Linked DNA regions of Homo sapiens. The protein of the gene in region 1 purifies or fractionates together with the protein of each later gene. This does not show direct contact. Each region holds a gene or a part of one and is shown in the gene's direction. Other genes may lie near its edges. The genes, in order: ABCF1, PINX1 and PAAF1.

Evidence for each region.
Region 2: the proteins of ABCF1 (region 1) and PINX1 purify together in Homo sapiens (co-immunoprecipitation; one large-scale study listed by IntAct). This does not show direct contact.
Region 3: the proteins of ABCF1 (region 1) and PAAF1 fractionate together in Homo sapiens (co-fractionation; one large-scale study listed by BioGRID). This does not show direct contact.

The regions. Positions count from the first base shown.
Region 1 is NC_000006.12:30,577,800-30,581,526, forward strand, and holds part of ABCF1 (ATP-binding cassette sub-family F member 1), read left to right. Parts: intron 1-18; coding exon 19-114; intron 115-276; coding exon 277-403; intron 404-548; coding exon 549-586; intron 587-670; coding exon 671-778; intron 779-2,131; coding exon 2,132-2,206; intron 2,207-2,606; coding exon 2,607-2,720; intron 2,721-3,727. UniProt on the Homo sapiens protein: Isoform 2 is required for efficient Cap- and IRES-mediated mRNA translation initiation. Isoform 2 is not involved in the ribosome biogenesis.
Region 2 is NC_000008.11:10,837,776-10,841,375, reverse strand, and holds the start of PINX1 (PIN2/TERF1-interacting telomerase inhibitor 1), read left to right. Parts: upstream 1-1,500; 5' UTR 1,501-1,619; coding exon 1,620-1,638; intron 1,639-3,600. UniProt on the Homo sapiens protein: Microtubule-binding protein essential for faithful chromosome segregation. Mediates TRF1 and TERT accumulation in nucleolus and enhances TRF1 binding to telomeres. Inhibits telomerase activity. May inhibit cell proliferation and act as tumor suppressor.
Region 3 is NC_000011.10:73,907,782-73,911,508, forward strand, and holds part of PAAF1 (proteasomal ATPase-associated factor 1), read left to right. Parts: intron 1-1,617; coding exon 1,618-1,812; intron 1,813-3,727. UniProt on the Homo sapiens protein: Inhibits proteasome 26S assembly and proteolytic activity by impairing the association of the 19S regulatory complex with the 20S core.

The DNA.
Region 1 (3,727 bases):
GCTTAACTCCCTTTATAGTTCTTTGAAGAGCTGGCAGTAGAAGATAAACAGGCTGGGGAAGAAGAGAAAGTGCTCAAGGAGAAGGAGCAGCAGCAGCAGCAACAGCAACAGCAGGTACAAGTGCCACAGGGCCCACCAATCCTGGGAGGCATCTGGGTTCCACCAACCCCTTTCCAGCCCATGTTGCTCCATTCAGCTGATGGGGAACCCTCTGTGAGGCAGAAATACAGCAGGGGCCTGGGCTTCATTTTCTCACTGTTCTTTTGCTCTCAGCAGCAAAAAAAAAAGCGAGATACCCGAAAAGGCAGGCGGAAGAAGGATGTGGATGATGATGGAGAAGAGAAAGAGCTCATGGAGCGTCTTAAGAAGCTCTCAGTGCCAACCAGTGATGAGGAGGATGAAGGTAAATGACCTGAGGGGGAATGGGTACCTGGAATCCATGAGTCATGGAGAGTGATACCTCATACCCTGATCTTCAAGTTGGATTCAATTGGGGGGCCAGACATTGTAATTCTTTCCTATCTCATGTTCTCCCCCTGTCATTTCAGTACCCGCCCCAAAACCCCGCGGAGGGAAGAAAACCAAGGTAAGCCATCTGTGTGGTAAACGGAGACTCCAAGGATGCAACCTTGACCATCCTACTGACTTCTGTGGCCCTTTCATTCTCTAGGGTGGTAATGTTTTTGCAGCCCTGATTCAGGATCAGAGTGAGGAAGAGGAGGAGGAAGAAAAACATCCTCCTAAGCCTGCCAAGCCGGAGAAGAATCGGATCAATAAGGTGACAGTGGTGGCTCGATCAGTCACTCTCACTCCATTTAGCACCTTCTGGCCATGGTGGAGTAATTTCCCGCTTTTAAACTAGCTCTTCTCGGTCTGTCTTACTTATACTGTTAAAATCATCTTTTTAGAATACATGCCCAGGCTGGGCACAGTGGGTCACGCCTGTAATCCCAGCACTTTGGGAGGCCGAGGTGGGCGAATCACGAGGTCAAGAGATCGAGACCAGCCTGACCAACATGGCGAAACCTCATCTCTACTAAAAATACAAAAATTAGCCAGGCGTGGTGGCGTGCGCCTGTAATCCCAGCTACTTGGAAGGCTGAGGCAGGAGAATCACTTGAACTTGGGAGGTGGAATTTGCAGTGAGCTGAGATTGAGGCACTGCACTCCAGCCTGGGCAACAGAGCAAGACTCAGTCTCAAAAAAAAAACAACAAAAAAAACCATGCCATTTTTATCACTCAGAAATCTACAGTGATTCTGTTGCTTTAAGCACAGAACCTGAAACAAAGCCCCAGGTCCTTGCTCTTCTACTTGTGACTCTTCTGCGTGTGCATCTTAGTCCATGTCCATTTGAGCTCTTGAGAAAGCCTCCAGTGCTAGTGCCACTCACTCTGGTGGCGCACTTGCCTGACTTATAATCCTTAGCCTTGCTGACGTTCCCTAGTTATCTCTTCGCTATCTAGTCTGAAGCTGGAGGGTAGGGTTTTTCTGGGTCTCATTTTTCGTCAGCAGCACTCAATACAGATGGTCTCCAACTTCTGCTTCGGTGTACGATTTTTCTACTTTATGATGGTGTGAAAGTCATACTCATTTAGGGTACTCCTCAACTCATGATGGGATTATATCCAGATAAACCCATCATAAGTTGGAACTATTTTTTTTTTTTTTTTTTTTTGAGACGGAGTCTCACTCTGTTGCCAGGCTGGAGTGCAGTGGCGTAATCCTGGCTCACTGCAACCTCCGCCTCCCGGGTTCAAGTGATTCTCCTGCCTCAGCTTCCTGAGTAGCTGAGATTACAGGCACGTGCCACCACGCCCAGCTAATTTTTGTGTTTTTAGTAGAGACAGGGTTTCACCATGTTGACCAGGATGGTCTCGATCTCTTGACCTTGTGATCCACCTGCCTTGGCCTCCCAAAGTGCTGGGATTACAGGTGTGAGCCACCACGCCCGGCCAAGAACTATCATTTTTTATTTAAGTTTCTGGTGGGTTTATCGGGATGCAACCTGTCGTAAATGGAGGAGCATGTGTATGGTTAACACAGTAGACTCTCTAGAAATGCTTATTACACAGCAAAGTAGCACAATAATTTGTATGTATGTGTGTAATGTGTATGTGTGTCTCCTCCAGGCCGTATCTGAGGAACAGCAGCCTGCACTCAAGGGCAAAAAGGGAAAGGAAGAGAAGTCAAAAGGGAAGGCTAAGGTGAGAGAGTAACTAGCAGGAGGAGGTATTGGGGCCCAGGAATTAAAACATTTCATCAGGGCTGGGCGCGGTGGCTCACGCCTGTAATCCCAGCACTTTGGGAGGCCGAGGTGGGCGGATCACGAGGTCAGGAGATCGAGACCATCCTGGTAACACGGTAAAACCCCGTCTCTACTAAAAATACAAAAAAAATTAGCCGGGCGTGGTGGCGGGCGCCTGTAGTCCCAGCTACTCGGGAGGCTGAGGCAGGAGAATGGCGTGAACCCGGGAGGTGGAGCTTGCAGTGAGCCGAGATTGCGCCACTGCACTCCAGCCTGGGTGACAGAGCGAGACTCCGTCTCAAAAAAAAAAAAAGAAAAAAAAAAAAAACATTTCATCAGACCTGTCTTTTCCCTATTAGCCTCAAAATAAATTCGCTGCTCTGGACAATGAAGAGGAGGATAAAGAAGAAGAAATTATAAAGGAAAAGGAGCCTCCCAAACAAGGGAAGGAGAAGGCCAAGAAGGCAGAGCAGGTGTGTATTTGGTGTTGGGGCAAGGTGGAATGAGGGACTAGGGCTTCCAGGGTCCTTATGGGAGAGTTAGAATCTGGGGATATAGTTATTATCCCAGCAAACCTTTATTCTTTTCTTTTTTTGGGGGAGTAGTTGGGGTGGTGGTTCGTTTGTTTTTGTTTTTGTTTTTGTTTACACAGGATCTTACTCTGTCACTCAGGCTGGAGTGCAGTGGTGTGAACACGGCTCACTGAAGCCTCAACCTCCTGGGCTCAACAGATTCTCCTGCCTCAGCCTACTGAGTAGCTGGGACTACAAGTGTGCACCACTACCCCTGGCTAATTTTTTTATTTTTAGTATAGAGATGAGGTCTCACTATGTTGCTCAGGCTGGTCTTGAATTTCTGGGCTCAAGCAGTCCTCCTGCCTCAGCCTCCCAAAATGCTGGGTTTACAGGTGTGAGCCAGCATGCCAGCCAGCAAACTTTTTCTATAAAGGGCCATATAGTAAATGTTTTTGGCTTTGCAGGCCACATACAATCTCTATCACATATTCTTTTTTTTTTTTAACAACTCTTTGAAAATACAAAAATTATTTTTATAAAGTTCAGGAGCTATATAAAAATAAATGTCAGGTCAGCCTTGGCCCATGGGCTGTAGTTTGCAACACCTAATCCAGTGAAGAAAGGGCCTGGAATTTATCTCAGATGATCTGGGTCCTGGCTCTGCCTTCACTGGCTGTGTGACCTTGAATACATCTTCCCATCCCCTTGGGTCTCACTTGTCTCCTTTGTGTGATAGAAGGAGGAGTCCGGAGATCTCTAGGGTCCCTATGCGTCTGGCACTTCCTAATTCTGTGATTCTGCTGGATTCCTCTGACTGTGCACTAGAGCTTCCTGATCTTTTTTTTTTTTTTTTTTTTTTTGAGATGGAGTCTCACTCCGTTGCCCAGGCTGGAGTGCGGTGGCGCAATCTCAGCTCACTGCAACCTCTGCCTCCCGGGTTCAAGCAATTCTTCTGCCTCAGTCTC
Region 2 (3,600 bases), on another chromosome or scaffold:
CTAACTGAGCGTTTCCAGGAGACACCTCATTGTAACAGAAGATCCAACGATAACTAACCATTTACCACCTGAACCATGGCAACAGGCCATAAATGTCTGCTTCGATCTTCTTGACCATCTTAGAGACAAAATTACCTTTCTGAAATCATATACCAACACAGGAGGTGCTTGAAAAACTCTGATTTCCGACTAATTCAGTATTCTCCATTCTATATAACTACCTTCCACTCTCTCTGGCATAATCCAATAGATCTGCTAATTATCCTAAGATTTTTGTGATCCTGCCTTCCTGAGTCCAGTGCCCTACTTTTAACCTTGTTCCCTATGTCACAATGTCACAGCTTTCCTGCCTTGGCTGGGAAAATTCCATTCACTTGCCTCCCCTCACCCCCTCAGTATTCACTGATAGCTATAAGCATCCTTTTGTGTTTCTTCTAACTTTTATGAAACTAGGGTTTACCTTTTTCATCCAGATTCCTAGTTAAAGGGAGAATTTCATTGTAAACAAGAATCTAGTCCTTCAATTGCTTTTCTTGGCACCTGAGTGGTGCTCTTTTTACCTTCCTTTTATGTAGGAAAGGCTTCTGTGTGCACTGTCACCTGAAGTTTACTGGAGAGTCACTCACCCAAAAACATGTCTTTACCATACTTAAAAGTGTTATAGCTAAGAGCTTATTAGAACTCCCCTGGAGACAGGGATACTTGAATTAAATTTTGCAAACATCTATGGAGCCTTACCATACTCACATTATTTTGCGAGGTGCTGGTACGAATACAGAAATGGATATAATAAAGGCAACCTTCCAGTGTGTGCACTGTGGTGGAGAAAATAAATAAAACCTTTGCCTTGTTGAAGGCATCCCATTATTTAAAGAGGTAACATTTTCCCCACAACTATTTTGTGTGGGGTCCCACAAAAAAACCGATAGATAGCAGACCTATCTTCTGATATCTATCTACTATCTATCTATCATCTATCTATCTATCTATTTATCTATCATCCATTTGTTTATCTATCTCAGAAAGCAGAGGTAGGGTACGAGGAAGAGATGGGACATTACAATGCAAAGTCCTCCCCTCCAGCCAAGTTTTTCAAACTCCTTGTCCATACAACATCCATGACCCTAAGTTCAGCTCTTTACACATTTCTTTTCCCCGTGAGGCTGAGCTGCTTGAGGGCAGGTCACGTCTTTCCACTACCCTTCTTGCCGGCACCTAGGGCTTCCTGATGGAGACCCTACAGGTAATCCACGTGAGCTTATGCTCCGCGGCAGACACGCCCAGGCGGGCTTTACTCACATCAATAGCTTAGTACGCACACTCCCTCTAGCCAATGAGCGAATACGTACTCCTTTCTCCACCTCCCGCAGGGCGGCCACCGCCCCCTCAGTCCCTCTTTCTCCCGTCACCTCCCCAGGTTGCCCCGCCCTGCTCCGCCCCCTCGCCGCCGCGTGCTCGAGGAGCGAGTCGCGCGCTACTGACGTCACCAGCACGCGCCCCGTCCGCTGCAGTCCGCCGGCGAGGGAGTTACGCACGTCCTGATTCTCCTGGAGTCTCCAGCCCGCCCAGTGGCCGCAGTCACCCAGGTCCAGAGGCGGCGGTATCACAGGCTCTCCGACATGTCTATGCTGGCTGAACGTGAGTGTCGGAAGCGGAGGCCCGACCCAGGCGCGTTGGTGAAGATGCCGGGTGACGCGCACGGCAGCCCGGAGTGGCTGGGAGCTCGGGTTGCCGGCGCGCCTGGCGCATGGGATCGGGGGACCGGGGAGCCGAGCCCGGCTCTGATTGTCCTGCTCGCCGCAGAGCTCCCCGAAAGTTGGCCGCAGGTCTGCTAGTGAGAGAGACCGCAAGTGTCTCCCGGAGACGCCGTTCTCAGAATCACCCTGGGTCGCGTGCGAAGTGGGTCAGAACACCGGGTCCCGGGACTGGCCCCGCCGCCGCCCTTTGTGGGGTCCCGGACTGGTTGCTTCACCCACCCCGGACCTCAGCTTCCTGAGGTTAAAAAGAGAAGGTTGAGCAGAAGGATCACTTGAAACTGTAATCACATTGTCCAAGATGTCTTGGACCCAGAAAAAGAAAAAGCAAAGGAGTTAGAAGTCTCAAATATGGGACGTCAGCCACTTAGCGAGGGAGTGCAGGGCTAATGTGTAATTCTAAGTGAGACTGGCGTTTTTGACCTTGTTAGTTGGCCACAGCGCCCCGTCCTGCCTGTTTACCTTTGACATTTATCTTCACTTGGTGGAGTCGGTGAAACCCCTGTCTCTGTAGAGGCTGCTGAACTTCTGAATTGTACCTGTAGCGAAGGTCGCTTGCCGCCAGATGGCAGTCATGCTTTGATCCTGAAAAGCGGGTCCTGCTTGGCGAGTTGTACAGTGAGCAAAGAACAGAAACAGCTTATTTAACAGATCAAGCAGACCAGCACAGGGATTTTGTGAAATAAGTGCTGTTAGCACTCTCTTTTCTAAGAGGGTGGAGGACTTAGGAGCACAAAACGAAATGGGTCAGGCACCATCCCGATTTTACAGGGGCAGAAATTGACGTTCAAAGGAAAATAATTTGCCCCTAGTCATTGAGGTAGAAAATGGCAAAATTGATCCAGTTATCTCTGTATCTTTATGTTCTTGCCAGTAAGACCAGCGGAGACCCATAGAAATGAGTATGTTTTAGACTGAACCCGTCGGTTCTATTTTTTCACCAGTAAAAAATGAGGAGTCAGGGTTAGAGCCTAGATAGCTAAGATCTCTTCTGGTTTTCGTATTCTTTGATGTTTGCTTAATTCAGCATGCACTTGGCGACTTTGGCCCTAGTTCTGCTATTCATTTATGTCTGTTCCTTTGATCAGTGTTTGTGAGGCCACAAAATCTTCTCTTAATATTTTTATCCCTAGGTGGCCTTAAATCAGTGAGATGGTGAACATGAACATAGTTTGAAAAGTCTGAAGTATAGAGGTGTAAAATGCTATTTGTAGGCATCAGTAATTCAGATTACATGATTTCAAGAGAGTGTTTTCAGTTCTCCTCTTCCCAACGTTATTCCAAATTGTCAAATCCTTGTCATTATAATATGTAATATTTTTGTGTTTTCTTTTTCGTAATTTGCTAAATGGGTATAGCATCTTCTGTAATTAGATACTTAGGATTGGTGTTGTTAAGAAGAAAAACCTTAGACAAATTATACAGAGTTTGATTGAGCAAAGAATGATTCAAGAATTGGGCAGCCTTCAGAACTAGAACCGGTTCTAAGAACTCCAACCTGCTATGTGGTCAGGCAGTATTTATGGACAGTAAACGGAAGTGAGGTACAGCGACAACTTGGTTAGGGTTACCGCTCTGATTTGCCTTATTTGAATCAGATGGCTGCCTGTGATTGAAGCCTAGCTGCTGTAATGGATTGAGGCTCACTTATATGTTATAAGAGTATACTCCTACGGTAGGCTTTCGCTTCCTTTAAGTTCTAACGTAGGTTGCAGTTCCTTATGTAAGGACTCAAGTACGGAGGCCTCCTCAGGCCAAATTTAATTTAGTGTAACAATACTCTCCTTCTGATCAACCTCTGAATTTTGAGAGATTGTTTAAAACTTCTGCCTCTGGCTCTTGGGAC
Region 3 (3,727 bases), on another chromosome or scaffold:
TATAGGGTGGATGTTGCCAAGATTTCTATTTTGTGAGCTACTTCTTTCTCAGTCTTTGGGCTAGGGGCAACAGACTTTACTGGGAGTTTTGTTTTGTTTTGTTTTTTAACTCTGTTCCTGTTAGCAGTTTTGTGTTGGAGGCTTCTGCAGTGTCCTGTCCAGGACATGTGGGAGGCAATAAGGAAATCCAGGAACTCATTGCTGTGTTGTTTTTTAAGTCCTGAGGTCCTTAAGTGGTCCACCACCTTCTTTCCATCATTCCAAGTCTTACTATGCTTGTGGTGTCAATGACTTTTCAGTTGTAAACAGAAGGACCTAGGAGCAATGGGACTACTCTTTCTTGGCCAAAACCAGAAGTCATGTCCTTTTTTCAAATGGGGAGGCTAACCCTTTTAATCAATTATCAGTGAAAGCAGCAGCAGCATATATGTAAATAAATATATATATATGTGTGTATATATATGTGTATATATATGTATATATGTGTATATATGTGTATATATGTATATATATGTGTGTATATATGTATATATATGTGTATATATGTATATATATGTGTATATATGTGTATATATGTGTGTATATATATATGTATATATATGTGTGTATATATATATGTGTATATATATGTGTGTATATATATATATGGGTCTTGCTCCACTGCCCAGGCTGGAGTGCAGTGGAGCAATCATGGCTTACTGTAGCCTTGAACTCCAGGGCTCAAGCAATCCTCCCACCTCAGCCTCCTGAGTAGCTGGGATTACAGGCACGAGCCACCATACCTAAATTAAATTTTTTGTACAGACAGAGTCATGCTGTGTCACCCAGGCTGGTCTTAAACTCCTGCGCTCAAGAGATTCTCCTGCCTCAGCCTCCCAAAGTGCTGGAATTACAGGTGTGTACCACTGCACCTGGCCAAGGCAGTGATTTTCAAACTGAATTAGCTTAGGTGTCAACTTTTTTTTCCTCCAAAGTTCTTGTTAAGGTGTCTACTTAATTTTTATTTTTTATTTATTTATTTATTTTTTGAGACGGAGTCTCCTCTGTTGAAGGCTGGAGTGCAGTGGCGTGATCTCGGGTCACTGCAACCTACGCCTCCCAGGTTCGAGCGATTCTCCTGCCTCAGCCTCCTGTTTAGCTGGGATTACAGGCATGTGTCACCACGCCTGGCTATTTTGTATTTTTAGTAAAGACAGGGTTTCATCATGTTAGCTAGGCTGGTCTTGAACTGCTGAGCTCAGGCAATCCACCTGCCTCGGCCTCCCAAAGTGCTGGGATTACAGGTGTGAGCCACCACGCCCGACCTCTTAATTTTTCTTTTTAAAAAAGAGTTTTGAAGACAAAATAAAAAACTTGAACATGATTTCTCTAGCACACTCCACTAAAAATTAAATCCAGTACTTGTTTTTCCATGCCTGTCTTTCACAGCTAGACTTTGATTCATTGGGAAGCTGGGACTCTATTTCTGTTTTTCTAGCACTTGAACATGGCCAGCATGTGGTACCTGTTCAGAACATGTTTGTGAAGGGATGGAGTCATTTATGCAGCTCCATCTTCTCTGCCCTTGTAGTTCCTTTACTCCATCCTCCATCTTAGGGAGTTTTTTTCTCTTGCTAGGTATCCTGGATACAGCCATCGTTGATCGGGGGAGGAATGTGGTGTCTGCTTCTCGAGATGGGACAGCACGACTTTGGGATTGTGGGCGCTCAGCCTGCTTGGGAGTCCTTGCAGATTGTGGTTCTTCTATCAATGGAGTGGCGGTGGGTGCTGCTGACAACTCCATAAACCTTGGCTCCCCTGAGCAGATGCCCAGTAAGTTGATAATGATATGTAGCATTGTTTTATTTTCTTAGGCCCCCTTCAGTGATTGCCTTAGTTTCTCCTTTTCTTCCTCATCCTTTTCTGCTCTGTGCCTGGTATTTCTGTTTTCACCATACGATTAATATTTACTCTGTACCTACTATGTTTCTATTACTTTGGAATCTACAAAGGAAGTATATGTCATAGCACTGCGTTTCAGTAAGTACAATCTAATGTAGAAGATGAGATAAATGCCTATAAAGCAGGGGTGTCCGATCTTTTGGCTTCCCTGGGCCACATTGGAAGACTTGTCTTGGGCCACACATAAAATACACAACATTGATGATAGCTGAGCTAAAAATAAATAAATCTCATAATATTTTAAGAAAGTTTATGAATTTGTGTTGGGCCTCATTCAGAGCCACCCTGGGCTGCAGGTTGGACAAGCTTGCTTTAAAACATTTAGAGAACAGTAACATTTGGCTGAAATAATTAGTGATTCTTTTTATTTATTTTATTCTTTTAGCGATAGAGTCCTGCTGTTTTGCCCAGGCTGGCATTGAACTCCTGGGCTCAAGTGATGCTCCCACCACAGCCTCCCTAATAGCTGGGACTACAGGCCTGCACCACCATGCCTGGCAAATTAGCAAGTCCTAATGCAAATATAATAGGTTTTCAGAGGGACGGAGTGTTCCCGGTTAGTATAGATAGGAAAGATGTCACAAAAGAAGTTGGCTTGAACCTTTAGAGGATAAGTTGAAGTTGAACAGACAGTAATTGTAAGGATAGGACAATGGGAGCTAGGGCAAGGGGTAGGTGTAGGGGCAGTTTGCATTATAGCTTGGACGTGAAACTAAGTGTTATATAAAAAGATATGTTTGACTGGGCTAGAAAGTTGAATTAAGAGGGGTAGTAGTAGGAAATGGGTTGAATAGCTGTGGTGAGAGACTAATAAAGGTCCTAATAAGGCAACTTTCCTTCTTATTTTCCCATAATAATAGTTGCATCTCTGTTCCATAGGACAATGTTTTTTCTACTGTTGTCTTAGCCCCTCACATTTTAAAAAATAGCCCTTATTTTTTAGGGCCATTTTAGGCTCACAGCAAAATTTAGCAGAAAGTACAGGGGACCAGGTGCAGTGGCTCACGCCTGTAATCCCAGCACTTTGGGAGGCCGAGGCGGGCGATTCACAAGGTCAGGAGCTCGAAACCAGTCTGGCCAACATAGTGAAACCCCATCTCTACTAAAAATACAAAAAATTAGTTGGGTGTGGTAGTGTGTGCATGTAATCCCAGCTACTCGGGAGGCTAAGGCAGGAGAATCGTGTGAACCTGGGAGGAGGAAGTTGCAGTGAGCTGAGATCGCTCCATTGCACTCCAGCCCAGGCGACAGTGTGAGACTCTGTCTCAAAAAAAAAAAAAAAAAAAAAAGTACAGGGAGTTCTTATATACCTTTTGCCTTACCCACTCACACATAGCCCTCCTCACTATCAATATCCCCCACCAGAGTGGTACATTTATTACAGCTGATGAACCTACGTGACACATTATTGTCACCCAAAGTTCAGAGTTTACATTAGGGCTTACTCTTGGTGTTATATATCCTATAGGGTCTGACAAGTGTACAGTGACATGTATTTACCATTGCAGTATCATACATAGTAGTTTCTTAGCCCTAATAATCCTCTGTACTCTGTTCAAGCAGTTCTCCTGCCTCTCACCCTCTCGAGTAGCTAGGACTCTAGGCATGCACCACTACACCTAGCTACTTTTTTTTATTTTTGTAGAGACAGGGTCTCACTATGTTGCCCAGGCTGGTGTTGAACTCATGGCCTCAAGTGATTCTCCCATCTTAGCCTCCCAAAGTGCTAGGATTACAAGCATGAGCCACAGCTCCTGGCCCTAAAGTAATTTAAATGAGAATATTT